4 linked regions of the Homo sapiens genome follow. The protein of the gene in region 1 interacts with the protein of each later gene in a biochemical or structural test. Each region holds a gene or a part of one and is shown in the gene's direction. Other genes may lie near its edges.

Region 1 (7,367 bases):
GAGCGAAGAAGTCCAGGTTGGATACTATATGTAGAGCTTTATATTAACTTTTCTCCAGGAATAAGAAAGTGTCCACACTGCCGTTTGTCTTGAAAACATAATTAGGGAAGGTGTACCACAAAAGAATGGGATTCTCTCTGAGAGCATGTTTATCTACTGTCACAGCTTTAATTGGGAAGGGTGAAATATCTACATCTGGCTAGGTCTGCTCTTCAAGAGCTGGGGCCAGATATTTGCCATCTCTCAGCCTTGGTCTTTTCTTCTGTAAACAGCAGGATTGGAGTATATGATCAGAAAGGTTTCTGTAATTCCAATGACTTCCCAAAATAACCATGACCTGCATCCTATCTATAAACCTCACATAGTTCTCTCCCTAACCCATGCTGTTGTCACAACCCTCCTACAGTCTTTTTTTTAGGACTTAGTAAATCGTTCTGACAAATAACTGTATTCTACCCATAGGCTTTATCTTACAGTCAGCAAATCATTTGCTAAAGTGCTAAACTGCCAGAGTCATAAGCCCGCATTCTGGAGGGGCTTCCAGCAGTGGTTGGTAAACTACTGCCCAAAGGCCAAATCTGACCCACCTCCTATTTCTGTACATCCAAGAGCTCAGAATAATATTTACATTTTTAAATGGTTGGAAAAATAAAATTAAGCATAATATTTCATGTCATATGAAATTCAAATTTCAGTGTCTATAAATAAAGTTGCATTGGAACCCAGCGACATCCATTCATTTATCTATTGTCTATGGATACTTGTGGCCTACACAGCAGAGTTGAGTGGTATTTGGCCATACCACTATGACTACATAGTCTACATACCACTATGTATGTAGACTCTCTCATACAGAGACTGTATGGCCCACAGGCCTAAAATATTTACTACCTGGCCCTTTACCTGCCCCTGGGTGTAGAGCACAGACTCTAGAGTCAGATGGCTTGGCAGCATAGCTCAGCTCTGTTCTGTTCCTTCCCCTTCCTCAAAACTGTATAATAGGAATGACAATAGTACCTATCCCATGGGTTTTTATTAAGATTAAGCAAATAAGTAAAATGCGATGAGGATCTGGCATATTTTTATTATTATATATATGTCTGATGGTATTATAAGTTGCCACAATTTTTTCCAGCAAACTAAAGTATTAGCAGCTGACCAATTTGTTAGCAATAATTGTAAGAATTGAATTTGCAACACTCCATTAAAATTCAATTCTTTGTCAGATGAGTAGGTAGCGAAAATTTTCTCCCATTTTGTAGGTTGCCTGTTCACTCTGATGGTAGTTTCTTTTGCTGTGCAGAAGCTCTTTAGTTTAATTAGATCCCATTTGTCAATTTTGTCTTTTGTTGCCATTGCTTTTGGTGTTTTGGACATGAAGTCCTTGCCCATGCCTATGTCCTGAATGGTAATGCCTAGGTTTTCTTCTAGGGTTTTTATGGTTTTAGGTCTAACGTTTAAATCTTTAATCCATCTTGAATTGATTTTTGTATAAGGTGTAAGGAAGGGATCCAGTTTTAGCTTCCTACATATGGCTAGCCTGTTTTCCCAGCACCATTTATTAAATAGGGAATCCTTTCCCCATTTCTTCTTTTTGTCAGGTTTGTCAAAGATCAGATAGTTGTAGGTATGCGGCGTTATTTCTGAGGGCTTTGTTCTGTTCCATTGATCTATATCTCTGTTTTGGTACCAGTACCATGCTGTTTTGGTTACTGTAGCCTTGTAGTATAGTTTGAGGGCTAATATCCAGAATCTACAGTGAACTCAAACAAATTTACAAGAAAAAAACAAACAACCCCATCAAAAAGTGGGCGAAGGACATGAACAGACACTTCTCAAAAGAAGACATTTATGCAGCCAAAAAACACATGAAAAAATGCTCATCATCACTGGCCATCAGAGAAATGCAAATCAAAACCACTATGAGATACCATCTCACACCAGTTAGAATGGCAATCATTAAAAAGTCAGGAAACAACAGGTGCTGGAGAGGATGTGGAGAAATAGGAACACTTTTACACTGTTGGTGGGACTGTAAACTAGTTCAACCATTGTGGAAGTCAGTGTGGCGATTCCTCAGGGATCTAGAACTAGAATTACCATTTGACCCGCCATCCCATTACTGGGTATATACCCAAAGGACTATAAATCATGCTGCTATAAAGACACATGCACACGTATGTTTATTGCGGCATTATTCACAATAGCAAAGACTTGGAACCAACCCAAATGTCCAACAATGATAGACTGGATTAAGAAAATGTGGCACATATACACCATGGAATACTATGCAGCCATAAAAAATGATGAGTTCATGTCCTTTGTAGGGACATGGATGAAATTGGAAATCATCATTCTCAGTAAACTATCGCAAGACCAAAAAACCAAACACCGCATATTCTCACTCATAGGTGGGAACTGAACGATGAGATCACATGGACACAGGAAGGGGAATATCACACTCTAGGGACTGTGGTGGGGTGGGGGGAGGGGAGAGGGATAGCATTGGGAGATATACCTAATGCTAGATGACGAGTTAGTGGGTGCAGCGCACCAGCATGGCACATGTATACATATGTAACCAACCTGCACAATGTTCACATGTACCCTAAAACTTAAAGTGTAATTAAAAAAAAAATTCAATTCTTTAGCAGTAAAGCAGTGGGAAGATGTCTAAGGACAACTGATATGCCAATTCGTATAGCCGTTTATCCACGAAGCTAATTCTGCAGTACTTAAAAATATTTTATATGCTTTATACTTCTTTCAAACTTGAGTCTTGAGCTTGTACTCAACATCGAGTTCGGCCCTGACATCTACTCTTTATAGTCGGTTACCTCTTTCTGAAGAAACAGGCTTCCAAAGAGAGACCAGGGGACTCATTAGATGTCTCATCTACCTTGATGATTGCTACCTTGATGATTGAAAACAGTAACCTGCTTCCTGAATCAAACACAAAACAGGCAACATGCAGTGTCTTTGCTATGCCACAACAGGGACTATTAGAATTTTTCTCACAATTCGGACTTTGGTTTTCAAAAGGGCTTGCGAGGGAAGTTACACACAAGAGAAAAACAATGAACCGAATGAGGACAATAGCCCACGAATTTAGAATGGAGGAAGCCCGTCCACCACAGCGAAAAAGCACAGTACCACATTGGCGGGTGCTCCAATATTTGTGAAATGTTGATGACCCTTTAAATGTTTCTGTGCAACCTCCACAACAAATACTGTGAATCTTGCTTATTAATGCGTTTCTCAATACGTTAAAATTCAGGAAATCATTAAGTCTAGTCCTTAACAGTGAAGGGCAAGCAATTTTCTGTCATTGAAATTACACAAAACAAAACAAAAAGCTCACGCCTGAATTGCTTCGGACTATTCAACTGGAAGATAGAAAAATATATGAAGTAAAGAAGAATAACCTACATAGAAGTTCCTATCTCTTATCTTCCTGAATACTTACCAGTACACTATTAGTTTGTTCTAAACTTTTCTTATATAAAAAGTAGCTGAATACTTTTAGGGAAATGGATTGTTTTGTCTGAATCATCCAGATAATTCAAACAATTCATTTTCCTAAGAACGATATGTGTGAGTCTGTCCTGCCCGGAAAATGCCCTCTGTCCTACTCAGGACACAAGTCACGCTCAGCTTAAACAGGCAAGGAATTGTCCCCTAGGAAGGAAATACGCCGTTGTCGTTCAGTGAACTCTGCAACCAACAGCAAGCCAAACTCTCCCTTGCACACAGTTCGTCAAGTTAATTCTTATTTTCCAAGGGCGCTTTCGTATTTCCATCTTTCAAAGACTCCTTCACCCACTGGCACCTAAGGCTTGCCCTAACGCATCCAGCCCCTGCCTCGCGATGGTGCGCTCCGCTTATAATAGCTCCGTCCTGTCCAATAAAGTTGTTTAAAATAAGAAATGTGCCAGATAATAGCCAAGTCCGAAGGAAAAAAAAAAAAAAAGAATTCCTGGGGTGGTGTATTGGTGTTGGAATGTGCCATTAGTTTTGGAGGGAGGAAAGTCCCTGGTGTGAATTGCCTCGCAGGTCGTAGGCCGCCACTGGACCTTCAGTCGTGCACTGCATTAGCGCCGTAATGGCAAAGATACGAAGAAGCGCGCAGGCAGGGGAGCCACGGCCGCGCGCACAGGCAAGAGCTGGAGACGACTGCGGAGCGCGTCCCCCACGCCCGCGTGGTGCGCTCTGGGGCGGCCCCCTAGCGGCAGGGCGGGGCGGGGCAGGGGGCGGAGAGGCCTGGCGCACAGGGCGAGGGCGGCTGCGGCGCAGTCTGCAGCATGGCGTACCCGGGGCATCCTGGCGCCGGCGGCGGGTACTACCCAGGCGGGGTAAGTGCTGACTGCGCGGGATCGCGGCCCAGGCGGCTCCGGGGCGCTAAGAGGCCACCTTGGAGATGCTGCGGCCAGCGGGGTGAGGCGCTGCTGGGCGGCTACCCGGGCTCCTTCCGCCCTCGGCTTCTCCCTGCGCTCGCGGCCTCGCCCTAGGCCCCTGGGGTTCGGCCTCTCCCCACGTTTCCCCGTCCCTTCTCCTGGATGGCCCTGCGGGGCCAAGGTGAGGGTGGATTGGGACCCTAGAAGCCCACCCTGCGGCTTCTCGGATACGCGGCGTGAAATCGTGTTAATTGGGTGTTGGCTGACCCCCACCCCACCCCACCCCCGCCTTCTTGGTTGCCTCCCAGAGCAACAACAGTCATTTTATTCTAGAATGATATACCTTCCTCCCTTTAAAAAACAAACAAACAAACAAACAAACAAACAAACAAAAAACGAGTGAGAAGGGGGACGGAAAAAAAGGGAAAACCTGCTGAAGTAAAAGACCTGTAGGAAGGCAGCCTCGCCGGGCGTCTGGGATGCGCGTTGTCTTGGGAACTGTTTCCGAGACAGGCAATGTTCCCTCGCCACCCACGAGATACAGCCCGGCCGGACACCTTACTCTTCCCTAGGCTACACCCGTCTCAGAATGTTACCAACTCCAGCCTTCCATCGTTCATAAAACGCTCTTAAAATACCATAAATGCTGTAACAACAAAAGGAGAATTTGAAGCCCTGCCATTCGTTGGCTTACCTAGTTTGCACTCACCTCAGTAACCTTCAGGTTAATAGGGATTTTAAAAGTTGCTTTACATATGTAGACATCACTTTCACAGCAACTCTTTATGGTCTAAGTCGCCAGTTTTTAAATTACGGGGTGTGAATGGAAGAGAGGGGTGGAGTGTTGGCAGAGTGTGCCCGGTGGTGGGGAGGTGAGCCTTGTGAAGGGCGGGCAGGCGGGCAGTTGTCTGGCCTTGCACAAAAGCCCTCAGTGGTGAAAGAAGAAAACTTGATTCGGCAGAATGACGTGTATGTGTTTCCTGTTTCACAGTATGGAGGGGCTCCCGGAGGGCCTGCGTTTCCCGGACAAACTCAGGATCCGCTGTATGGTTACTTTGCTGCTGTAGCTGGACAGGTTAGCTTTTCCCTTTAATATTAAAGAGCCGTTATTGTCTGCATTTGTGGTAGCTTTTGATATAGTGACACAGAAAAGCGAACTTCCTGTGGTACTGAGTCCCTTTGCTTCTGCAAAAGAAAAAAAAAGTTGTTTCTTATTTTAGTTTTTTATTTCTGAATGTTCAGAATAAATGAGGACAAAGTGTTACTCGTATTTATGTGAGTTCAGTTCGAAAGCAAACTTGTGGTTGAATTAAAGGGTCCAGGATGGTTTCAAGCGAAAAAATTCAAGATCTGGTAAATATAAACGCTTGTTTGTACAACTTAAAGACATATATTAGTAATTACATAGCTCGATTCTAATGGGCACTTTCTTTGGGTTGAACTTGATTGCTAATCATTCACCCCCTTAGGAAATATGGTAAAAACCCACCAGCTTCTAAATAAGGAAGTTACTGTTCCCTTCTTAGTATCAGAAAGTTAATCTTGTGAACAGTGTAGTTTCTCTTTGATGCAGATGCTGTTACTAGGTCAGCCCCTCCATGTCCTTATTAGGTGTTCTGGCCTGTTGACCCAGAGAAGCAATTAAGGTCAGCTCCCCAAGACCTTTCACTTGTCTGCATTCTGAGTTGTATGACAGGTGCTATCTTACATTGACAGGTGCTATCTTACATTGAGAGAGGACACTTCCCTAGTTCATGAGGTCACTGTGTGCAGTAAATATACTGTTGGTATAACCCAGACACGTCCAGAGGAGATGTTTGTTCTTATGAATTCAACCTAGTTTTGTTTTGACCAAAAGCTAGAAATAGCAAAATCTTAATGTGAAAACTGTAGAATATTATGGGATAAAAAACCTAAGACCACTTTTAAGGTAGTACTCTAAGAAATACAGCTTAAGAAATTGAATGGAAAATATAGTCTAAAACTGGAAGACCTTCCCCTTAAGTATCTACTTAAACTGTTAATGATCTGTATCTTTGAAACCACAAGGCATGGCAAACCTCAAGACTAGCATTCTTAGATTGCCAGTGCCTCCAGCATGTAAGTGACTCCACCTGCTTAGCTTTCAGCAGCCCTGGCCTGTATTCAGCATACCCATTGTCTTTCAAATTGCTGATCTTGCTCCTCATTTATAACTTATAATACCCAGTGACTTGAAGATTTAGGTATTTTATTTTAAAGTCCCTAAAAATCACATATATCTAGTTCTTTCCCAGTTCAGCCAGTGAATGGGCACTGGGAACCTAATGTGAATCTTCCAGATGTATTTGTGCTCTGAAAAAAATGATTCACTATATCATAAGAAAAAGTGACCAAGGAGGCCTTTTTCTGTTTGAACCAAGCCTTCTATTTATTGATGTCTGCTTTGTACCTTGCTCTCTCCACCCCCATCAAAAAAAAATATTTTAAAATGTTTAGCTGTAGCAGTTTGCTAGCTCAGATTGAGAGAAGAGTAGTTGCCAAGACAGACTCTTTCTTTCATCATTAAATTACTTTTGGAAGTGGGTTAAGGAAAAGAATGCCCACTTTTGGAAGGCATTCCTTTTAATAAAAAAAAGGCATTCCTTTTAAATAAAAAAAAGATACTGATTTTCTTTGTTGTTATTGCTTCATTGAATGCTGAAGGTAAACAACTTGAAAGTACAAATCACTATTATGATTCCTCTAATTTTTTTTCAAAAGGATGGGCAGATAGATGCTGATGAATTGCAGAGATGTCTGACACAGTCTGGCATTGCTGGAGGATACAAACGTAAGTTGACAGTCCCAAAGTTTGTCTAAATATACTCTTGTGTTTCCTATCTTAGCTGTTACTTGTGATTACAGCCTTCAAGAAAACTGAGCTTGTCGGATCTAGCAAAGTTTAGAATTCCGAAAGCTAAAATACAGTACTATTTCAAAATGTTGATTTGA
Region 2 (7,440 bases), on another chromosome or scaffold:
ACAATATAATGGAGTTATGTTTTCTAAAGTCAGCATATGAAATGAAAAAAAATTTTCAAAACTACCTTTGAAAATCCTTTAGGGTAGCACATGGGTTCTCTCAGTAGGTCTATCAGAGCCAGTTTTTCCCAGTGCTGGAAATAAATCTGTATTTGGCTGATCACCAGACGAAGTAGTTGGCTTGGGTTTTGGGGGCCCTATTGTAGTCAATCAGACAATCAATTATTTATCAAACACTCACTACTAGGCTCTAAAGATATCCCTGTTCTCAAGGAGCTTACATTCTAGATGGGGACAGAAACAGTAAACACACAGAATTTCAGATGCTTTTTTTTTTTTTTTTTTTTTTTTTTTTTTTTTTTTTGAGACGGAGTCTCGCTCTGTCGCCCAGGCTGGAGTGCAGTGGCGGGATCTCGGCTCATTGCAAGCTCCGCCTCCCGGGTTCACGCCATTCTCCTGCCTCAGCCTCCCAAGTAGCTGGGACTACAGGCGCCCGCCACTACGCCCGGCTAATTTTTTGTATTTTTAGTAGAGACGGGGTTTCACCGTTTTTAGCCGGGATGGTCTCGATCTCCTGACCTCGTGATCCGCCCGCCTCGGCCTCCCAAAGTGCTGGGATTACAGGCGTGAGCCACCGCGCCCGGCCAGAATTTCAGATGCTTTTAAGTGGTATAAGGAAAATTAAATAATGAGCATAGCTGCTAGTGGTGGTTGTGCTGGTGGCAGCTACTAATGTTCAGGAAATACCTTGAGGAGATGACATTTTTTGTTTGTTTTTTTGAGATAGGGTCAGGCTCTGTCACCCAGGCTGGAGTGCAGTAGTGAGATCTTGGCTTACTACAGCCTCTGCCTCCCAGGTTCAAGTGATTCTCCCCTGTGAGCCTCCTAAGTAGATGGATTACAAGTGCACACTACTATGCCTGACTAATTTTTGTGTTTTTTGTAGAGATGGGGTCTCGCCATGTTGCCCAGGCTGGTCTCCAACTCCTGGGTTTCAGTGATCTGCCTGCCTTGGGCCTCCCAAAGTGCTAGGATTATAGGTGTGAGCCAACTCACCCAGCCAGGAGACCACATTTGAGATGACACCATGGAGAACATTCCCAGTAGAAGCAATAGCAAGTGCCAAGGTCCTGAGAATCTGGTGCATTTGGTCACAAGCTTGGTATGTTTGGACCGAAGGCCACTGTGTTCAGAGGTTAGTGATTAAGGAAAGTGAAGGCCAGGCGCCGTGGCTCACGCCTGTAATCCCAGCACTTTGGGAGGCCGAGGCAGGTGGATCACGAGGTCAGGAGATCAAGACCATCCTGGCTAACATGGTGAAACCCCGTCTCTACTAAAAATACAAAAAAATTAGCTGGGCGTGGTGGCAGTCACCTTTAGTCCCAGCTACTTGGGAGGTTCAGCCAGGAGAATGGTGTGAACCTGGGAGGCGAAGCTTGCAGTGAGCTGAGATTGCACCACCGCACTCCAGCCTGGGCGACAGAGCAAGACTCCGTCTCAAAAAAAAAAAAAAAAAAGTGAAAAGGGATTAGATGAGCGATGTAGGCAGGGACCAGATTATCTAGGGCTTAATAGACCATCAGGAGTTTGGATTTTATTTTATTCTGGTTCCAGTGGGAAGCTATTAAAAAAGTTTAATCACGGGAATTACATGACCCAATTTATTCTTTAGAAAGATCACTCTGACTCAGGGTTTCTTAACCTCAGCACTATTGACTTTTTGGGCTGAATAATTCTTTGTGTAGGGACTGTAGGCATTGTAGGATACGTACCTTGTTTAGAATCCTTGGCTTTCACCCACTAGATGCTAGTAACCCCACCACCTCCCCTCAGTTGTGACAAACAAAGATGTCTCCACACATTGTCAGGTGTCCCTGAGGGACAAAATTACTATTCTAATGGAACAAAAAGGATATGAACTTAAATACCAGACTCTGGGCCAGGCGTGGTGGCTCACACCTGTAATAATCCCAGCACTTTGGGAGGCCGAGGTGGGTGGATCACCTGAGGTCAGGAGTTCGCCTGGGCAACATGGCAAATCACCGTCTGTATTAAAAATATAAAAATTTAGGCCGGACGTGGTGGCTCATGCCTGTAATCCTAGCACTTTGGGAGGCTGAGGCGGGTGGGTCATGAGGTCAGGAGATCGAGACCATCCTGGCTAACACAGTGAAACCCTGTCTCTACTAAAAATACAAAAAATTAGCCAGGCGTGGTGGTAGACACCTGTAGTCCCAGCTACTCGGGAGGCTGAGGCAGGAGAATGGCGTGAACCCAGGAGGCAGAGCTTGCAGTGAGCCGAGATCGTGCCACTGCATTCCATCCAGCCTGGGCAACAGAGTGAGACTCTGTCTCAAAAAAAAAAAAAAAAAAAAAAAAAAAAAAAGCTGGGCGTGGTGGCGGATGCCTGTAATCCCAGCTACTTGGGAGGCTGAGGCAGGAGAATTCGTTGAACCTGGGAAGCAGAGGTTGCAATGAGCTGAGATTGTGCCATTGCACTCCAGCCTGGGCAACAGAATGAGACCCTGTCTCAAAACTACAAAAACAAACAAAAAAAAACCAGACTCTGATACAGTGGGATGTTCACATTAGAAGCATGATGGCTCTTATTTCACATGAACTCTGGAACATACCATGGCCTTCAGAGATGTTGACCAGGTATGGTGGCTCATGCCTGTAATACATCCAGCACTTTGGGAGGCTGAGGCAGGTGGATCGCTTGAGGCCAGGAGTTCGAGACCAGCCTGGCCAACATGGCGAAACCCCATCTGTACTAAAAATACAAAAAAATTAGCTGGGCGTGGTGACATGCCTCCCAGCTACACGGGAGGCTGAGGCATGAGAATCGCTTGAACCCCGGAGGCAGAGGTTGCAGTGAGCCTAGATCGCACCACAGCACTCCAGCCTGGGTGACAGAGCAAGACTCTGTCTCCAAAAAAATTAAAAAATTAAAATGGTCCAGTTGAGTACAAAAAAGAAGATCAGGAAGAGTTTATTGGAGCAAGACGGAGATGAGCAACCTTGAAAACAAGTCTAATTAAGATGAGTAATTGTTAAAAGATGAGCAGTGCTTTCTAAGCAGAGGTAGCAGGAGGAAAGGGTCTCCGATCCTGTAACGCCTTTTATGCCAGGAAGAAAGGATGAATTGAAAGGATGAAATGGCAAATGTCGTAGTAGACTATTGGACTATTCCTGCAGCTCAGGAAAGTGGGCTGGAAATAAGAGGTTTGGCAAATACCCTGTTATGGTGGTATTTAAGGCAGAGGGAGGGTTTGGAACGAGCTCACAAAGGGAACTCTAGAATGAACAGAGTAGGCTTCTCAGGGAAGGCTTAAATCCTGGAGGTCTCTGGGGTAGGTAGGACAGAAAGTCCTGTTATTTTCCAGGTAGACAGACTGTTGGGCGCCGGGGAATTAATGCTGGTCACCTAGAGAGTTGTGCATTTTGTCTACCATTGTTAAATGAGGCAATGACCTGCCTCAAATACTTTTCACTCCACACACCTATTTGGAAGCCACGTATATTTTGCTTGCTCTTCCCATTTAAAATCGTAATCCACTCTATTCCACCCCCATGAGGAAGCTTTTGGGTAGAAAAGTGTGTAGAGGAATAAGTAAGTTGATGTGCATCAGATGTGCAAACTTTAGTGTGCATCAGAACCACCTGGAAGGCTTGTTAAAACAGGTTGCTGGGCACCACCCGGGGAGTTTGATTCAGTAGGTCTAAGGTGGAGTTCAATAATCTGCGTTACTAACACGTTTCCAGGTGATGCTGCTGTTCGGGGGACCACACCCAGAAGCTACCTTTTACCACTCTAAAAGGTAGCTGATTGGTTTTCTCTGTAATATAAATTCCTTAACGAGTTTAAAATATTGATCTGAGCCCTCGTAATTGCCTCAAATGTTTAATGCTAATGTGTGTTCAATGCTGTAGCCACGAGGGGAGCCTAAAATCACCTAACAACTCCTTTCGGGAGTGATTTTGATTAGTTCATCTACAGTTCCAACTAAGATTTCCCACAAATATTACTTTCACAGGAGGCTAACAAAAAACGCCGTCTTTGTCCCCAGAAAATACCTGGAGGACGGTATTTCAGAGGCGGGGAGGCTGCACCAGCCTCCCAGTCTCAGCCCTTCTCTACCGCCCGCCACTGAAGGGGCCCCGGATACCCCCAGGACTGCTGCAACTTCCTAGGTGACTTGAGGCAGCCTTAAAAGGGATTGGTGCAGGGTCCTTGCGACAGATAAATGTGATTAAAAATCCGCTGGGCCACCCGAAGGGAGAGTCTTTTTCCCTCAGGTGGCGCCTAGGGGCGGGACTGAGGGACAGCCCGCTCCCCGCAGCGCCCTCTCCGGCTCCGGGGGTGTTCCCGGCTGCAGCCGCGATCCTAACGGGCTCGCGAGACGCCCCGCCCACCCTGGGCCCGCCCCCGGCTCCATCTTGCGGGAGACCGGGTTGGGCTGTGACGCTGCTGCTGGGGTCAGGTGAGGAGCGGCGCCCCCCTCCCTTTCCCACCTCGTCTGCCTCGGTGGTCTTGCCCTCGGCCAGCTCTGGGCGCTGCTGTCCCGGTGCTAGTGGGGCGCGGCTGGAGGGCAGTGTGGGCCTCCCGGATGGCGGCGACTCGGTTTGCGCGTCTCGTAGCCGGGCTGCCGGCCGGGGTGTGTTGGGGTGGCGTGGGTGAGGCGGCCGGCCTGGCTTACGGGAAGCCCTTCCGTCCGTTTGGAAATCCCAGGGACCAGTGGCGCCCCGCCCTCGGGCAGGTGGAGGGGCTGAGGCCGGAGCGTGGCCCAGCTGCCTCGCGGGAGGCTGAGTAGGGAAACGCACGGGCAGTGCTGAAAGCCGTCTGGCTGGTAGTGGCTGTACTTTCCGGTGACACAGCGAATTTAGGGAAACTTGGGGAAATTTTTACTGTGTTTAGTGAACCGTAGGACAGAATGCGCCAGGCCAAGGTCGTACACTGGTTCTCGTTTACAGTTCTTGGAAGCTATTCTAGAATAGCATTCCAGATTTGATTGCTGTTCCCCGACCAGCAGCAAATCTGTGTTGAAATTAGCTCATCCTGTGCAAACACTGCGCAAGGAAACCAAGGTGCAGAGGTAGATGGCTGATGTCCACCGTAAAGTGACAGACATGACGCTGTTGTCTTCCGACTGCCGTAAACGCCCTGATTTTTGCCAGCTGATGGCCAGCTAATCTGCTAAATGTGTCCGAATTAGATGATGAGTGTAATGAGTTACCTTCCAGGCAAGGAAAGAGTTTCAAGCACTGAATAGGTAAAAGAGATAATTTTGGCCACTGCAAACTTTCAGTCCTTTTCAGTGAGGACTGTCTTTCAGTCCTCACTGGTGGTTGGCTACCTACCTGTCCGTGCAGAGGACTAGCCATGCCTCCATGTTCTTTCTCCACATCACTGACGGATTTAAATGATCCTACCATACCTAGAAGCCGGTTTTGCAAAATTGTATTCGCTGTTGCGCGTATCTTCAGTCACCCTTCCTGTTTCGTGTATTTTTTCCCCCATAAATTTGCAACAGCTGCCTCTTGGGTTCCTGGGCTTCATGCCATCAATGAGAAACGGTGAGACCCAGCCCTTTTACTAACTGACTCACTGGGTGGAGGTGGTTTGGAAAACCAAAAATGATTTTCTAGTCTTTTAAAAGTGATTGCTAACAGAGAATGTTTAAAAAAAAAAAAAAAAAAGCCCGAGCGCGGTGGCTCACTCCTGTAATCCTAGCACTTTGGGAGGCCGAGGCGAGAGATTCACGAGGTCAGGAGGAGTTTGAGACCAGCTTGACCAACACGGTGAAACCCCGTCTCTACTTAAAAATACAAAAATTAGCTGGGCGTGGTGGCGCGCGCCTGTAATCCCAGCTACTCTGGAGGCTGAGGCAGGAGAGTCGCTTGAACCCGGGAGGCAGAGGTTGCAGTGAGCCAAGATCGCCACTGCACTCCAGCCTGGGCGGCAGAGAGAAACTCTGTCACAAAAAAAAAAAAAACCCAAAAAACTCTAGACTTACTATTCACTTGGGCAAAGTTGAGAAATTTTTTGAGTCACTCTGGGTGTTATTTAGCTTTTTACAAAAACGTTTAAAATCTGCCTCTTGAATAAATGATATATGTACAATTCTAAAAGGGCTAAAGTACATTGAAAAGTAAGTCTCGGCCGGGCGCAGTGGCTGTCGCCTGTAATCCCAGCACTTTGGGAGGCCTAGGCGGGAGGATCACGAGGTCAGGAGATCGAGACCATCCTGACTAACACGGTGAAACCCCGTCTCTACTAAAAATACAAAAATTAGCCGGGCGTGGTGGCAGGCGCCTGTAGTCCCAGCTACTCAGGAGGTTGAGGCACAAGAATCTCTTGAACCCCGGAGGCGGAGGTTGCAGTAAGCTGAGATCGTGCCACTGCACTCCAGCCTGGCAACAGAGCGAGACTCCATCTCAAAAAAAGAAAAAAGAAAGGTAAATAGTCTTCTCCATTGTGTCCCAGCTCTTCATCCAGGAAGCAGTCACTGTTTTCTACTTCCTTGAGTGTCCTTTCAGGGATATTCTATAAGTCAAAATCAGTGCATTTTTTACACATAATGGCAGCACACTATGCAGTTTTTCACTTTGCCTTTTTTTTTTTTCATTAATACGTGTTATAGATGGTTTCATATATGGGTAAAAGAAAAAGCTGCCTCATTTTTAATAACCACATAACACCTCCTTGTATGGCTATCCATAATCTGTTTCACCTGTCCCTCCTTTTTAAAAATTTAAGCAATGGCCCCGCACAGTGGCTCACGCCTGTAATCCCAGCACTTTGGGAGGCCGAGGTGGGTGGATCACCTGAGGTCAGGAGTTCGAGACTAGCCTGGCCAACATGATGAAACCCTGTCTGTACTAAAAATACAAAATTTAGCCGGGTGCGGTGGCACGTCCCAGCTACACGGGAGGCTGAGACAGGAGAATCGCTTGAACCTGGGAGGTGGAGGTTGCAATGAGTGGAGATCACACCACTGCACTCCAGCCTGGATGATAGAGCAAGACTCCATCTCCAAAAAAAAAGATAAAATTTCAACAGCTTTTGGAGTACAAGTGGTTTTTTGTTACATGGATGAATTATATGGTGGTGAATTCTGAGATTTTAGTCACCCAAGTAATGTACATTGTACCTAATGTGTAGTTTTTGATTCCTAGCCCCCTTTCACCCTCCCCTTTCTGAGTCTCTAAAGTCCATTATATCACTTCATACCTATGTCTTTGCATACTCATAGCTTAGCTTCCACTTACACAGTGAGAACATACGGCTTTTGGTTTTCCACCCCTGTATTACTTCACTTAGAAAAATGGCCTCCAGCTTCATCCAAGTTGCTGCAAAAGACATTATTTTGTTCCTTTTAATGGCTGAGTAGTATTCCATGGTTTATATATACCACATTTTCTTTATCCACTCAGTTG
Region 3 (7,416 bases), on another chromosome or scaffold:
CTTGGCATTTTTTATTTTAATATCTTTAAAATTTAACCTATGCTTTGGAAAACAGTTTGTCAGTTCCTCAAAAAATAAAATTATAGCGTTAACATGTGATCTAGCAATTCTACTCCTCGTATATACCCAAGAGAAATTAAAATATGTCCACACAAAAACTTGTACATGAATATTCATAGAAGCATTATGAACAATAGTAAAAGAAAGGGAACCCCAAATGTTCACCAGCTTATGAGTCAATAAACAAAATGTGATATATCCATATAATATTATTTGGCAATAAAAATGATTGAAGTACTGATATATGCTACAAAATGCAAGAACTTTGAAGACATTATATTAAGTGAAAGAAACCAGTCACGGAAGTATATTAAGTGAAAGAATCCTACTAGTGTGGGATTTTATTTAATTGAAAAGTCCATAATAGACAAATCTTTAGAAACGAAAAGTAGATTAGTAGTTACCTAGGGCTAGGAGCGGAACAGGACTGCTAATGGGTACTAAATTCCTTTTGGGATGATAAAAGTGTTCTAAACTCAACTTATAGTTATAGTTACACAACTCCATTAATATACATAAACTATTAAATTATGTATTTTAAGTAGGTAAATTGTATAGCATGTAAATTACAGTTCAACAAAGATATTTTAAAACAAAAGAAAATCAAAGAAAAATTAATCTGGCTAGTTAATTCTTTTTATGTATTACATATGTATTTACATTTTTTACATGAGGTAATTAGATATCTTTCATAATGTACTCTTGAGATGGTTCAGTTTGATTTTAATTTTGTATTCTTTTTTTTTGTGAGAAGAGTTTTATCATAATTTTTCATCTGATGATGTTTTTTAAGAAAATACCGAACAACCAAAACAAACACAACATTTGGGAAGGAATTCTTGTTTATGAAGGAAAACGTTGTGTCTCTACTGAGCATGGAATTTTAACATTATAATTTAACATTTTGGCATGCTATCATCGAAAACCAACATAACACCTTGTCTCAGTAGTTTATATTAATTGCCTGTGATAGATGTGTATGTATGTGAATGGATAATGTAAACTCTCACTAAAGATCATAAAGGATTTGAGGCAGTTTTCCAAATGATATGGAACATGAATGTATAAAAATGTGTCACTGGCATCAGGCCATAGAAAATATATGGATAGGAAAATAAAACTGAGGCTAAGAGTGACACACAGTCATTTATACCACACCGATTGGTAGAGTTGGGGCCCACATTAATTTCATTCTTCCTAGCAGCCAAAGAAAAATATGATGAGTTTCAAAATCCAAATTCCAAAAAAGGAAGTCTTAACTAGCATGGTTGAGAAGAATCTGATGCCCCAATAACATGACAAATCATTAATATTTTAAAGTGTGCAATGGTGGTAGATTTATGTCAGTGTGTACTTTGTTTCTCCTTAACACATGTCACAGTTTATAATTTAATTTACTCCATTTTGGTCAGCGGGGGTGGTTTACTCCCTCAATTGAATATAAGCTCCCTGGGGGCAGGAATCATGTCTATATTATTCACCATTGTATCATCAGTGCGCAGTGCTAATACATAATAGGCACTCAGTGATATTTGATGAACAATTGAATGACAATGACATATGAAAGAAATTTCTCCACTAGAGACTTTTTTGTTGTTGTTTCTTTATTTATCTATTGTTTTGAGGTGGAGTCTCACCATTGCCCAGTCTGGAGTACAGTGGCGCGATCTCGGCTCATTGCCACAGATCCTTGATACAATGGAGGAGGAAGGAGGTGCTAGATGAATGTCAAATTCTATGTAGAAGAAAATTTGTAGAACATCTAGAAATGATTAAAAGTACTATGCAGCCATTAAACATGTCATAGAAAATTAAAAGAAGACACAGGTTGGGTGTCCCAAATCCAAAAATCTGAAATTCGAAATGCTCCAAAATCGGAAACATTTTGAGCACCAACATAATGCTCAAAGGAAATGGGGTATTTCACATTTCAGACTTTCAGATTCAGGATGCTCAACCGGTAAGTATAATGCAAACATTTCAAAGTCTGAATAAAGTCCCAAATCCAAACAATTCTGGTCCCAAGCATTTCAGATTAGGGATGTTCAACCTGCAGTGTCTATTCCCATAACTTTTTTCCTTCAAATTTACAGTGCATACTGATTTCTCCTCTGATTCAGATTTTAAAAAATCATTCATTTCTAATCTTACTACCACTCTCCTCCCTTCTACAGATCTGTTGACATCTTAGAGTTGACAGAGCAGGAGGAATTGCTGAAATTTCACTATCACACTCTCCGGCTCTACTCAGCCGTCTGTGCTCTTGGGAACCACCGGGTGGCCCATGCCCTGTGCAGCCATGTGGATGAACCTCAGCTCCTCTATGCCATTGAGAACAAGTACATGCCTGGTTTGCTGCGTGCTGGCTACTATGACCTGCTGATTGACATCCACCTGAGCTCCTATGCCACTGCCAGGCTCATGATGAACAACGAGTACATTGTCCCCATGACGGAGGAGACGAAGAGCATCACCCTGTTCCCTGATGAGAACAAAAAACACGGCCTTCCAGGGATCGGCCTCAGCACCTCCCTCAGGCCACGGATGCAGTTTTCCTCCCCCAGTTTTGTAAGCATTAGTAATGAATGTTACCAGTACAGTCCAGAGTTCCCACTGGACATCCTCAAGTCCAAAACCATACAGATGCTGACAGAAGCTGTTAAAGAGGGCAGTCTTCATGCCCGGGACCCAGTTGGAGGGACTACTGAATTCCTCTTTGTACCTCTCATCAAGCTTTTCTATACCCTGCTGATCATGGGCATCTTTCACAACGAGGACTTGAAGCACATCTTGCAGTTGATTGAGCCCAGTGTGTTTAAAGAAGCTGCCACTCCGGAGGAGGAGAGTGACACGCTGGAGAAAGAGCTCAGTGTGGACGATGCAAAGCTGCAAGGAGCTGGTGAGGAAGAAGCCAAGGGGGGCAAGCGGCCCAAGGAAGGCCTGCTCCAAATGAAACTGCCAGAGCCAGTTAAATTGCAGGTAATCAGAACAAGAGACTTGAGTGAATTTCAGAATTGCTAAGCATTAAGGTATTAGAACATGCCTTTGTTTCTTTCTCTGTGTGTGTGTTTATTTCTTTGCATTCCTGTGTAATGGTAGTTCTTCATAAAATTAACTAACTTCCTATTCTTTTCCCTCTTATTCATTAGCCATCTCCTCTTGTTTCCCAGATGCTTTTTACCTTCATTACATTGGAATACCTGAAATACAAGCCATCAAATACCCCTTTCCACCCATATTTCCACTCTTACCAACCTTAGAATACTTGTTTACCAGTAGATGCACCCATTGTCACATAGCAAGGTTTTACTTTCCCCTAGTATGCTTTTGTTTTGTTCTTTTGAGACAGGGTCTCACTCAGTCACCCAGGCTGGAGTGCAGTGGTGGTGCAATCATAGCTCACTGCAGCCTAGAACTCCTGGGCTCAAGCCATCCTCCCACCTCAGCTTCTACAGCAGCTGGGACTGTAGGTATGCCACCATGCCCAGTTAATTTTTTTTTATTTTTAGTCGAAATGAGGTCTCGCTCTATTGCCCATGCTGGTGTCAAACTCCTGGACTCAAGTGTTCCTCACTCCTCATGCTCCCAAAATGCTAGGATTACAAGTGTAAGCCACTGCACCCAGCCACCTTAGTATGTTTTTAAGGAATCAGACACACTGGCTGTCTTTATGCTCCTCAAGATGTCTAAAGGGTCCTTTATTAATGTCTCCTCTGTTTATTAAAGTCAATTGGATGTTTGCATCGCTGACCTGCTTTTTTGCTCCTCGTTCCTTTAGTCAGCGTTGACTGAAGCCTTACTCTGGGTATGCACTTAGGGGAAACACAAGTGAACCCTGCCTTTCAGAATCTCACAGCCTCTAAGGAAATATACACTCATTTATGCATTAAAAAATCTTATTGCTAATTGCATTAAATACTCTGAAGGCAAAGAATGGATTACTAAAAGAAAGAACATTTAGACTGGATTACTGTTAGAAAGATGAGGGAGAAGACCCCTCAGAGATTTTGACTTTTAAGCTGAGTTCAGATTTAAGAGTTGTGCTCAGCAGTTACAAGAAAAAGGAACAAGGCAGGGTGTTCTAGGAGCTTTCCATGCAAAACAAATAGCCCAGCAAAGGTCCTGAGGCAGGAAAAGGCCAGTGTGGCTGCTGGTAGGAAAATCGATAAGGGAGGAAAGAGAGTGTGATCTAGTGTCTGGTTAGTCAGGAGGCTTTCTTGCTGGTCCAAACTCTAGGAGACCATGCTCAGAGGAGGGTGGGGCAAAGGAGATGGAGAAAAGGGGTTGGACACTGTGACTACTTCAGAGACAGCACTGATAGAAATGGTTATATTGTAGATGGTGACACAGAGGGTTTTAAGGTCCTCTTTGACACTGTCATGTATTTATATCACAATTGGTATTGAGTGTATAGATTTTTTTAAAAATTTGGCAGAGCATTCTCTCTTAGAAATGTTTCTACCAACATACTCACTCAGTTATAAATCCTTTTGGTTTTCAGTAGGAGAAAGACCCAGCTAATCACTGAATGAATGAGCATTCACCACTTAATTGTCTTAAGTTTAGATTTCTAGAATTGGTACAGCAGTTCAATGATCTCATCCATAACCCAGATCTTAATATTTTTCTGCTCTGTGATCCTCAGCCTGTGGTTTTCTTCCTAAAATGCTCACCTTATTCTTTCTGCAGTAATCATGTCATCACCCAGTTACACTCATTTTGAAAGAAGGGAACTCTAGTCTCTTATCACTGATGGAATAACTTTCCCAGAAGACCCTTAGCAAACTTTCCCTTATATATTTCATTGGCCATTGCACCTGTGGCTGAAAGGGAGGCTGGGAGGGTAAGTGTATTAGTTCGTTCTCACACTGCTAATAAAGACATACCTGAGACTGAGTAATTTATAAAGGGAAAAGGTTTAATGGACTCACAGTTCCACATGGCTGGGGAGGCCTCACAATCCTGGCGAAAGGCAAATGAGGAGCAAAGTCACATCTTACATGGTGGCAGGCAAGAGGGCATGTGCAGGGGAACTTCCATTTATAAAACCATCAGATCTTGTGAGACTTATTCACTACCACGAGAACAGCATGGGGGAAGACACCCTCATGATTCAGTTATCTCCACCCAGCCCCGCCCTTGACATGTGGGGGTTATTACAATTCAAGGTGAGATTTCATGGGGAAAGAACCAGACCATATCAGTTAACATCCACTAAAGGGACATTTGTTTGCCATTTTTGCTTATACAAATTATGTTTCATCTCCTGGGACCGAGCACATTGCTGCCTATACAAAATCAGGATTCTGTTTCTAAGAGAGAAGAGTAGGCAACTAAGGATGTTTACCACAGATTATGATTTCATACACATTATTAAAGGATTTAGAAATTAAATTTGGTGTCTTTTTAATGGTCTCTTAGATGTGCCTACTGCTTCAGTACCTCTGTGACTGCCAGGTCCGGCACCGGATAGAAGCCATTGTAGCCTTTTCAGATGATTTTGTGGCTAAGCTCCAAGACAATCAACGTTTCCGATACAACGAAGTCATGCAAGCCTTAAACATGTCAGCTGCACTCACAGCCAGGAAGACAAAGGAATTTAGATCACCACCTCAAGAACAGGTACAGAAATGAAATGAAAATTCTTCGTATTTATGTTGGCTTTTAGTCATTCAGGATCTCTGCCTTGCAAAATTATATAACTCACACGTCTTGTTTTCCTTGTTCTGTTTAAAGTCTTCAAGTTGATTTAGTTAGTATTCTTAGTTTCACCAAAAGAATTTCTTTGGTTAGTTTACACAAAAGAGGGACTTATTAGAAGATATCAGGTATATCACCGACTCTTTGAGAAGGCCAAGATATGCCAGAGTCTGAAGTTCTTCAAATAGGAGCAAATTTCAACCACAAATGGGTCTTCATCATCTTCCACTCATAGGAATTTTTGATTCCTAGGACTCGATGCTAGAGGCTTTCCATTTGTGCCTACCATAGAAGAAACACATGTCTCTTCCACCTTGCTTGCCGGAAGACTGATTACCTGCTTGTGGTTTCTTCCTTTCATTGCTTACCCCCAAAGTCAGGTCTCCTGAGGGTACAACAGAACAAAGGGAACCTGCCTATATCAGAGAATGGGCTAGTTGGGGGATGTAAATTTTCTGGAATCTACCTCAGAGTGGGCCTCAGAGTGTGGGAAGTTACTGGCGTAGGGATGGTGTTAAACAATGTAATTCACAGATGTCTTTTTTGATTTCTTACCCTTACCATTTTCTTCTCTATCCAGGGTAGCTCAGAATGAAAGTGTTTATAGGGACTAATTACAGAATTTTTTTTTTTCTCACCAGAATGTAATTTCTTTGAGGAAAGGGATGTGGAATTTTCTTAATTGTTATAAACAGCATTTATTGAGCAGAGAACAGGTCCAGCCTCTTCCAGATTAACTCTGTTAAACTACTGTTGGGAAACTTCTGCTTCTGGAAAGATGGAGTACATGTGCTTTTCCCGATTCTTCCTTTTAAGTACAACTAAAACCCTGGACATTACAAAGAAGACAACATAAGAAGGCTCTGAAAGATAGAGAGAAGAAGAGAGGTTGGCTACAGAACTCAGGACCCAAGGAACAACATGGTGGTGAGTTCCCTGGATTTTCTTTTTGCCTCATCTATCCCAGATTTGAAGCTAAAGAAGACGACAACCAGGAAACACCAATGGGCATAGACAAGAAAAGCTGCAACAAAAGCCTCCTCTTTCTAGATAAAGGATCAGGGAAGGGGCAGCTTAGCAAGACAGAAATGTGTTAGATAATAACTGCACTACTGAAGCCAAAAACCACAGAAAAAACTGTTCCCCACCCACACTGGGCACAGGCTGAGTGGGGAACCTTGACTTCCACTCTCACCAGGCTGTAACAAGGTGTCCCAGTAGAGGACAGAGCTGGGACTTTATCCCCGCTGAGTAGTAACAAGGCCCATTTCTTCCAAAGTATCAGTAGAGGTTATGGAAGGAGAAGTAGCAAGACACTCTTACCTTTCTAGCAAGGTTCACATCAGTACAGGTCTAATGAGGAACCAGAACTTTTTACCACTGCCCAACAGTAACAGGGTCCCTTCCCTCCTCCAGATGTCCAAGAAGGCTGAGTGGGAAAATGGACTTCGCCTCCCACCTGGCAGCAATAAGATACCCTAAGCCCTTCTCCTGCTGGATGGGGTCAGAGGAAACCAGGTGAAACAGAGTTAAAAATAAGACCCAGAGCTCCTAGCATAATCCTCAAAATGTTGAGATTTCAATTAAAAATCATGTGTGTGAAGAACCAAGGAAAACTTGAATGAAAAAACCAATCAATAAGCACCAACACTGAGA
Region 4 (7,888 bases), on another chromosome or scaffold:
CTTCCCTGGTGAAAATAACTTCTTGCCTTGGAACACCTGAACAAAAAGCAGAGAAAAGTGTTTTTTTTTCTTTTTGCTAATGAAAAACAAATAAATCTTCAGTCAGTATATAATAGTACTTGTGTATATGGTGAGATATTTTAAAAGATGGTAGCTAGCAGAGTCAGTTCCCTCAACTCTACAGTTCTTTGCATCATTCCCTTTTATATGTTCCTTAGGCAAATCCTGAGTCAATGCAGACCAAAGCCATGAGCGCAATTAATGGAAGAAATGCATTTTCAGCAAATGGATGGCTGCTATAGTTAGGAAGTGAGGCTGAAATGGATATTGGAGAAAGATTTAGTGTTGTGTAGAATTTAATATATTGCTAGTAACATGGGTGAAGGCTATCTTTATCAAGTGTGACCTCTTAGCTTCTGTGTCTCCAAGCATGGGAAGTCCTAGCTTGTTAAAGCTTAAGCCTGCCTCCCCTATGGCTAAATGAACAAAGATGTATGAGACTTTTAACCAGAATGAAGGGGCCAGAGTCTTTGGACAGCAAATGGAGTGAAGCTAACTGGCCCTCCTAGAACTGAATCCATATCCTTGGCCTCATTGAGACCACTTGGGCAACTGGCTACCATGAATAATACAACATAGCAAATGAGATACTGACTTATATGAGTGTGGACATTTTCATTAGCATTTTAAAACTATAGCAATATTACTGTTAAAACACAAATAAGAGGCCCTCTTATGTGAGAAAATCCTTAGGACCAATACTTTGAGAACCTCCAGAGGAGAAAATAAATACATGAATTTTATTTCAATAGTCAATATTGAATAACAATATTTCAATGTCAGGCCTTTAAAATTGTATATGTAAAAGGTATAAAAGTGCTATAATGATAAAAATGAAAAATTTCTGATTTGGCCCCCACTACAGGCTCTCCACCTGCTGTTGATATTGGCTGCAGAGTGCCCCAACATTCAAATACAGCAGGCTTTGAGGTCTGACTTTGAACCATGCCAGTATCCCAAAGGTATTTGATTTCCCTGTTGTGTGCACCTAATTGAAGTCATAATAATGGCTGATAGCTTTCTCCAGAGGTTTAGAAACCTGGGAGGCTTTGGGTTTTTCTTTCAAAATGTAGTAGCTACAGTACCCTCTAAGACCTAAGGTCCAAGTCCTCCGGCTCTCTACTAAGAGTAACTGGTCTTGAGAGAGACTCAGTTTAAAATATAGGCTGTGTGGAAGCAAACCCAATGTGTATGGGGTATGGGGGCATGGAGGTGGTGTATGAACCTGATGTTTTCCACTTTGCTGTTCTAGAAGCAAGGCACTATAGTGGAGAAAGTACTGAAAAGTATTGAGATTGTTTTACTCCAAGTAAGAGGAGATTGTGTGACTCCTTTTACTAGATGTATGAATTTAGACAAGTAACTTACTATTAGTTTATTCTCTCCCGGTCTTAATGGGTGAACTAATAGCAAAACAAGTATCAAAGCACAGTGTCTGAACTACTATTTATCTGTACCTGTATGACTACAGCATCATTATTGGTGCATCTTTGGGAAATCTTAGAGAATGGAAGAAGTACCAATAGATTTCAAATAGAAGTAAATGTCCACCTTCCCCAGTTTACAGTCTGAAACAACAGCCTGAGACTCTTTTATACGCTGAGCTCCAGAACAATCTTAGATTTTGATAATTAAACAGCTTACTTTTGGGAACTCTAAAGGAACACAAAGACCATCAGGAATCCAAGTGGATGCACCAATGGTGTTACAGAACTCCATTCTTACTTCTTTTGTGGTAGGGTTATTTGACTGATGCGGGAGGTGGTGTCCCAGATTACATATCTGTATTTCAGTAAAGTATGTAAGAAAGGCATTTATAGTAGCCCTATGAACAAGAAGAAATTTGGGCTGCAAAATAATATATTTATGTAGGTTATTTTTTAATTATAACTTTTATTTTAGGTTCAAGGGTACATATGTAGGTTTGTTACATAAGTAAACTGCATGTCATGGAGGTTTGGTGTACAGATTATTTTGTCACGCAGGTAATAAGCATAGTACTCAATAGGTATTATTTTTCTGACTTAGGTAAGTTCTTGATCATTAAATAAGCATAATCAAAAGTATGAAAGTTAATCCAACAGGGCCTCTATTAGTATTCTGAAGGTATGCCATATTAAGCATAATCAAAAGTATGAAAGTTAATCCAAGAGGGCCTCTATTAGTATTCTGAAGGTATGCCATATCACAGGTTAGTAATAATTAGCACCTTGCCTGGCATACTCTAGCTTTAAAAATACCTTAAAGGTTCACATATAGAGACATCAATACATGATTGGGTATTACAATTGGAAGGAACACACACACACCCACCCACACACACACACACACACACACATATTTTTGAGACAGAGTCTCGCTCTTGTTGCCCAGGCTGGAGTGCAATGGCATGATCTCGGCTCACGGCAATCTTCACCTCCCGGGTTCAAGCGATTCTCCTGCCTCAGCCTCCCAAGTAGCTGGGATTACAGGCATGCACCACCACGACCGGCTAATTTTGTATTTTTTTTTTTTTTTTAGTAGAAATGGGGTTTCTCCATGTTGGTCAGGCTGGTCTCGAACTGCCGACCTCAGGTGATCCACCCGCCTTGGCCTCCCAAAGTGTTGAGATTATAGGCGTGAGCCACCGTGCCCACAGGTACTCAAGCACTTGCATGTGATCAAGATGGAGAAGAGCTGACTTTTGCAGTTCACGTGGGAGGAAAAAAGTAAATCTAGAAATTCTAGTTAACTCCAAACACAGTGAGTGTCATTAGTGTTTCTCCAGAAGCCAATCCAATATTAGGCTGCACATAAAGACTGTCCAAAACAAGGACGGAGAGCACAACAATTCAGGAAGAAGACCACCTGGAATGCTCATATGGCCATCAAAGATGACATAGGCTCTGGAAACTATACTACAGGGAAAGTTGGGGCTAAGAAGAACCTTGAGCCAGGAGAAGAAAAGAGTGGATGGTGGGCCATAGAGGCAAGCATGGCAGATGCCTTCTAAGAGGTGAAGGGCCACAATGTACAGATGGTTTGACTTATTCTAGGCGGGTTTCAGAAGAGGCACAAGGCCCAAGCTGAAGCCTAGAAGGTAGCAGTTTGAGTACAATACAAGAAAAAAACATTTTTCTTTGCATTTCTGATGTTCATCAGAACATATGGGACGGAAGCTCAGGAAAGAGATCTTAAGGTAGCATCAAGAGATAGATGTCGTCCACAAGGAGGCGGTATATGAAGCTGTGAAATGGCTTGGGGTTTCCAGTGTCTTCCACCATCATCAGCCCAGAATTACCACCTTCCCAGTTGCACTTCCTCCTAAATCTACATCTCTGGTGCCTTTTGCCTTGAACAGTCTCTTGCCTTGGAGCTTCTCGGCCATCAAACAGAAGGGGGCACCCTGCACCGTCAGTCAAGGCAAGGACCAATCTGGCAATCCCCAACCATGGAAAAGGACCTAAGGCTGGGTGGGATGTAGGAGCCTTCCAGGACCTGGAAGGGAGCCTCCTGTAACTACTCTCTACTCCCTTTAGAGTCCACAGGGCTGGAACTCTAAATGCAGAATAAGGTTAGGGGTGGGCAGAGAGGAAGGGTTGTGATGCCACCTGACTTCCAAATTGAGGGTGGCACAGGATCCCCCAGAAGCTCCCTGGGGTACAGAAGTCACAGCAACCCTGGACAATCCAGGGGTTTGGTAAAGTGTACTTACCAATTTTGAAGAGGGGAAGGGGTTCTCTTAAGGTGTAGAAAGGACTATCCAGGGAGTTGCAAACTTTGTTGTAAGTGGACAATCACCCTCGCTCCTCACTGCACCGTCTTCTCCTTGCCCAACAATGCACGCGGGTCCTAGCAAGGTATTCGAGTCCAGATCTCTCTCTCTCTCTCTCTCTCTCTCTCTGTCTCTGTCTCTCTCTCTTTCCTCTCTCTGTCTCTCTGTCTCTGTCTCTCTCTTTCCTCTCTCTCTCTCTCTGTCTCTGTCTCTCTCTTTCCTCTCTCTCTCTCTCTATCTCTGTCACACACACACACACACACACACACACACACACACACACACAGGCAAAGTGGGCAAAGCGGGCAAAGCGAGCAAAGCGAGAGGGTTGGTACCCAGTCTGGGCGCGCTGGAGCTAAGCAACTGGCCTTTGTTTGTGAATTGGAGCAGTTTAGGGGACATCCTCCGGTCGCCGCGGGGCGCGCGCCTCCGCTGAGTGTGCGGTGCGGTACCCAGCGGTGCGGGGGAGGCTCCACCGCGCCAGCCCAGGGCCCCCGCACCGCCCCCGCCAGCTCGACGCGCCCAGCGTTGCGCTCTCCACGGAGCGGGCGGCCGCAGCGCACTTGGCTGGGGCGAGAGGCGAGAGGGGTGGGCGGACTGCTTGGTTGGCGTTGGCGCTCTGCAGTGCAGTGGAGTGTTAGCCCAGCTCCCTATATGGTCGGGGATTAGCTTGGCGCTGCTGAGGCTGAGGCTGAGCCAGGAGCTGGAGGAGGAGGTGGAGGACGAGGACGAAAAGGAGGAGGAGAAAGAGCGCAGCAGCAGTCAGCGCACGCCGAGCGGCTGCCGGGGGAAGCAGAGGCGCCGGAGGCTGGGGCACCGCCGACGCCTCGGGAGCCATGGCCGAAGGGGGAGAAGGAGGCGAGGACGAGATCCAGTTTCTGAGGACTGTGAGTCTCCGCGGCGGGGGCGAGGCCGTGGGCAGGTGGGGAGGAGCGCGGAGCGCGGCGAGGAGGGGCTGGCTGCGCTGCGCCGCGGTGCCGGGTGCCCGGTGCCGGGCGCTTTCTCCGCACCCGCGGGCTGCAGAGGCGGACCGGCCACCTACCCGCGGGGCCGCGAGGGGCTGCGTGGGAAGGGGCACCATCTCCTGCCTCTCCCTTGTTCCCCTACCGCCACCCCTGCCCCAGGCCCTCCACCTAGGACCGCTCGCTCTCCAGGCAACTTGCTACTTGGTCTGAAACCCTTGATGCCCAAACTTCAGCCGGGGTTTGTTCGCGGTTGTCCTGACCCATAAGATCGGCGTTGGAAGCCCTCGCCCCGGGGTCGGCCCTCTGACACCTCCATACTCCACCCCAGCCCCATTCCTCTTCCAGGGCGCCCCCACGCACAGGGGAACCTCCGGGAAGGAGCCAGCGGGGCAGGGGGGAGTGTGGGGAGCCGGGTCGGAGAAGCGGGCGCAGGCGCTTGGTCCTAGCCCTGGGATCGCTCGGAGGGGAATTCACCCAGCGCTGCCCCTCTCGTGTTAAGCCCCACGCCGGCAACTGCTGCTGGAGCCTGACTTGACTGACTGCCTGTCGTGTGTTCGAGAGCTGTGGCTTCTGCTCCTGGCTCCCGCGAGCCCCGCAGGACAGGGAAACCCCAGTCAGTGGCTCCGCGTCACTCAGGTCCCCTCCTTGACACCTGAGGGCGCTGCTCCGTCCCAGATTTGGGGGTGAGGGGGCGAAGTCTGTTGCAGCCACACCAGCCTTGCCCTGTAGGAGATAATACAAAGACTTTCAGGGTGGACGGCCACCCGGAGGGGTGGGGGCATTGGGGATGCATCCTAGCGCTGACTTCAGCCAAGTGACCTTGAGCAAGTCGCATAATCCGCCCTACTCAGCCTCAGTTTCCTCATGTGTAAAATAAAATGTAACCAGCGTTTCAGGGTGATAAGGATTAAACGTTATCGTGAATGTCATAATGTTTTGTAAACGGCAAATCGCTCTGTAAATCTTAGGTAATTTTATATGCGCTGCCTTGCTCTCAGGAATTAGAATGAAATTCTTTCTTTCCCTCTCTCACTTCCCTTTAAGGGTGCCCCCTTCTCCATGACCTGGTCTTCGAAGATCACAACTTACCTCTTGTCCATCTTTTGAACCACTCTCCTCCTGTTGAAGCGCTTCCTTCCAATTTACTTCAGTTTCTCTTCCAAACATGGTTCTTTTGTCAAAGCTGGGACTTGGGTCTTATTTGGGGGGGGTATGGAAGTACCTATCGCCCTGCTGGTACTACTGAGAGGCTAGAGTATTCATCTCTTCATCCTTCGTCTGACCTGCAGACCCAGACTCCATTCTCATCTCTCACACTGCACACAAGATGGCCCCACAGTTGCAACTCATGACAACCCTATTGTTATAAAGCTGCCTGCTCCCCTCAAAGCTCCATCAAATCCTTTGGTTGTCCCTCTGACAGGTGTCTTTAGTAGTGGATGGGTGGCAGCTCAGGTTTTTTCTGCCTTGTGTCCTCCATGATCAGTCATTTCTTCTCCTTATTATTAATGATCTTCTAGGCGTTATTGCTTGAAAAAATTATCTTCAGACAGGGTCAGTGTTGAATAGATGTCCCAGGGAGTTGAGGCTTAGGAAGGTGGTAGTTGTTGTGAGATCCTTATGCTTTTCTCTTGGCTTCTGAGCCATCTTCCCTGACTTTTCCTCTCCATCTGGCATTGTAAGTGTTTTTTGTTTTTGTTTGTTTTTGGTACACCTGTAGCCAAGGTTTACTATAGTAGTGGTTCTTAAGTTTTGTGTCCTGGGCTTCCTGCCCTAGAGATCAGAGCTGGCAGACCTCTTTTAAAGTACACCCATGACAGCCTGTGGGGTTCAAGGACCCAGGTTCAGAGCCCCTGTTGCAGAGAACTGCATACCGGTTATGGCTTAGAGCGAGTGATGGTGGTAACCATGGGGGCAGTGACTCCAAATGTGGCGTTATTGGTTCTTTTCCTTCTAGTTATCACCTTATGTATTTTTTAAGGTGTGTTCCTCATTTCTTCACCCTATGAGGCACCTTAACATCTTTGTTTTTAGCTCACTGGGAAGGAAATAGGTGATGAAACTGAAGCACAGGAAATCGAGTGACTTGAACATAGCTGTTGACAAGTTATTGGTAATTTTCATTATACAATGTTCAATTACATTCCCGCTAGAGCCTGGCATTGAGCGTTACGCCAGATGTTATATATAGTCTTAAGAATATACCTAAGAACATAAGAGGAGTACTGCAGCTTTCTGAGCTTGGCATCCTCCTTCTTCATCTGTGAATTCGACAAAATGATTTTTTGGAATCCAATAGCCATAAGCTTTTGATCTCTGCACAAAATTTTGACTTTAGGGTAGTTGGGAACACCAGGCTTGTGCTAGCAGTGGGATTTTTCTCTCCTCTGGGTATGTCTGGGTTAGGGAAGCTATTTCACTTTGAACTCACTCAGTTACCTTTGCCTTAGGCTTTCTTTCTCCTCCCCAGACAACACCTTTAAAAGCATTTTGGCAGTGTATTAGTCATATATAATGCTTCCTCACATCGACATGGTCCTGGATGAGAAGGTGACTCATACTGGACCATGGAATAGAATCATATCTTTGTAACCATGAACTTTAAAGGATTGCCATCCCAGAGAGCAGAAGCTTTTAACCTATTTACAAAAAAAGACCATACAATAGCATTATGCCAAGGATCCTAATCAAATTGTTAGTGGTTGTAGTGTCAGGTTTGTTATAATAGTGCCAAAAATGAAAGCAGCTAGAACTATTGATAGTGTGAAATGAGCCAGAATTACTGCAGTAACCACTGTAGGTGTGTGTGGTGTGGCTTTAGACACTTATTTGTGGTAGTGTTTATTTTGGTTATGTCCTCTGATACATTTGGAAGCCCACCCTCTCCTAAGTAGGGAACAAGACCTAAACAAGGGCTTTGGAAGCTTAAACACATGTGAACTAAATGCTACTGTACCCCAAGCCTTAAGGAGGCAGTCTAAAACTATATACCCTCTTCTGGCCTTCTGAAATCACTGACAGTCATGTATGCCAGTTAGAATCAGGCAGATAGACAGAATCTTTAAGGCTAAAATTTTCCCTCCCACTGCTGTTGGCAGTGGCATCCTCC

Evidence for each region.
Region 2: the proteins of SRI (region 1) and ANXA7 interact in a biophysical measurement, tested with the Homo sapiens proteins (2 studies listed by BioGRID and IntAct, with this or other methods).
Region 3: the proteins of SRI (region 1) and RYR2 form a complex in vitro, tested with the Homo sapiens proteins (one study listed by BioGRID).
Region 4: the proteins of SRI (region 1) and RYR3 form a complex in vitro, tested with the Homo sapiens proteins (one study listed by BioGRID).

Annotation. Positions count from the first base shown.
Region 1 is NC_000007.14:88,216,961-88,224,327, reverse strand, and holds the start of SRI (sorcin), read left to right. Parts: upstream 1-4,289; 5' UTR 4,290-4,301; coding exon 4,302-4,352; intron 4,353-5,103; exon of another isoform or gene 5,104-5,385; coding exon 5,386-5,469; exon of another isoform or gene 5,470-5,579; intron 5,580-7,136; coding exon 7,137-7,206; intron 7,207-7,367. UniProt on the Homo sapiens protein: Calcium-binding protein that modulates excitation-contraction coupling in the heart. Contributes to calcium homeostasis in the heart sarcoplasmic reticulum. Modulates the activity of RYR2 calcium channels.
Region 2 is NC_000010.11:73,411,056-73,418,495, reverse strand, and holds the start of ANXA7 (annexin A7), read left to right. Parts: upstream 1-4,437; 5' UTR 4,438-4,484; intron 4,485-7,440. UniProt on the Homo sapiens protein: Calcium/phospholipid-binding protein which promotes membrane fusion and is involved in exocytosis.
Region 3 is NC_000001.11:237,611,805-237,619,220, forward strand, and holds part of RYR2 (ryanodine receptor 2), read left to right. Parts: intron 1-2,234; coding exon 2,235-3,039; intron 3,040-5,481; coding exon 5,482-5,682; intron 5,683-7,416. UniProt on the Homo sapiens protein: Cytosolic calcium-activated calcium channel that mediates the release of Ca(2+) from the sarcoplasmic reticulum into the cytosol and thereby plays a key role in triggering cardiac muscle contraction. Aberrant channel activation can lead to cardiac arrhythmia.
Region 4 is NC_000015.10:33,306,396-33,314,283, forward strand, and holds the start of RYR3 (ryanodine receptor 3), read left to right. Parts: upstream 1-4,571; 5' UTR 4,572-4,650; coding exon 4,651-4,701; intron 4,702-7,888. UniProt on the Homo sapiens protein: Cytosolic calcium-activated calcium channel that mediates the release of Ca(2+) from the sarcoplasmic reticulum into the cytoplasm in muscle and thereby plays a role in triggering muscle contraction. May regulate Ca(2+) release by other calcium channels.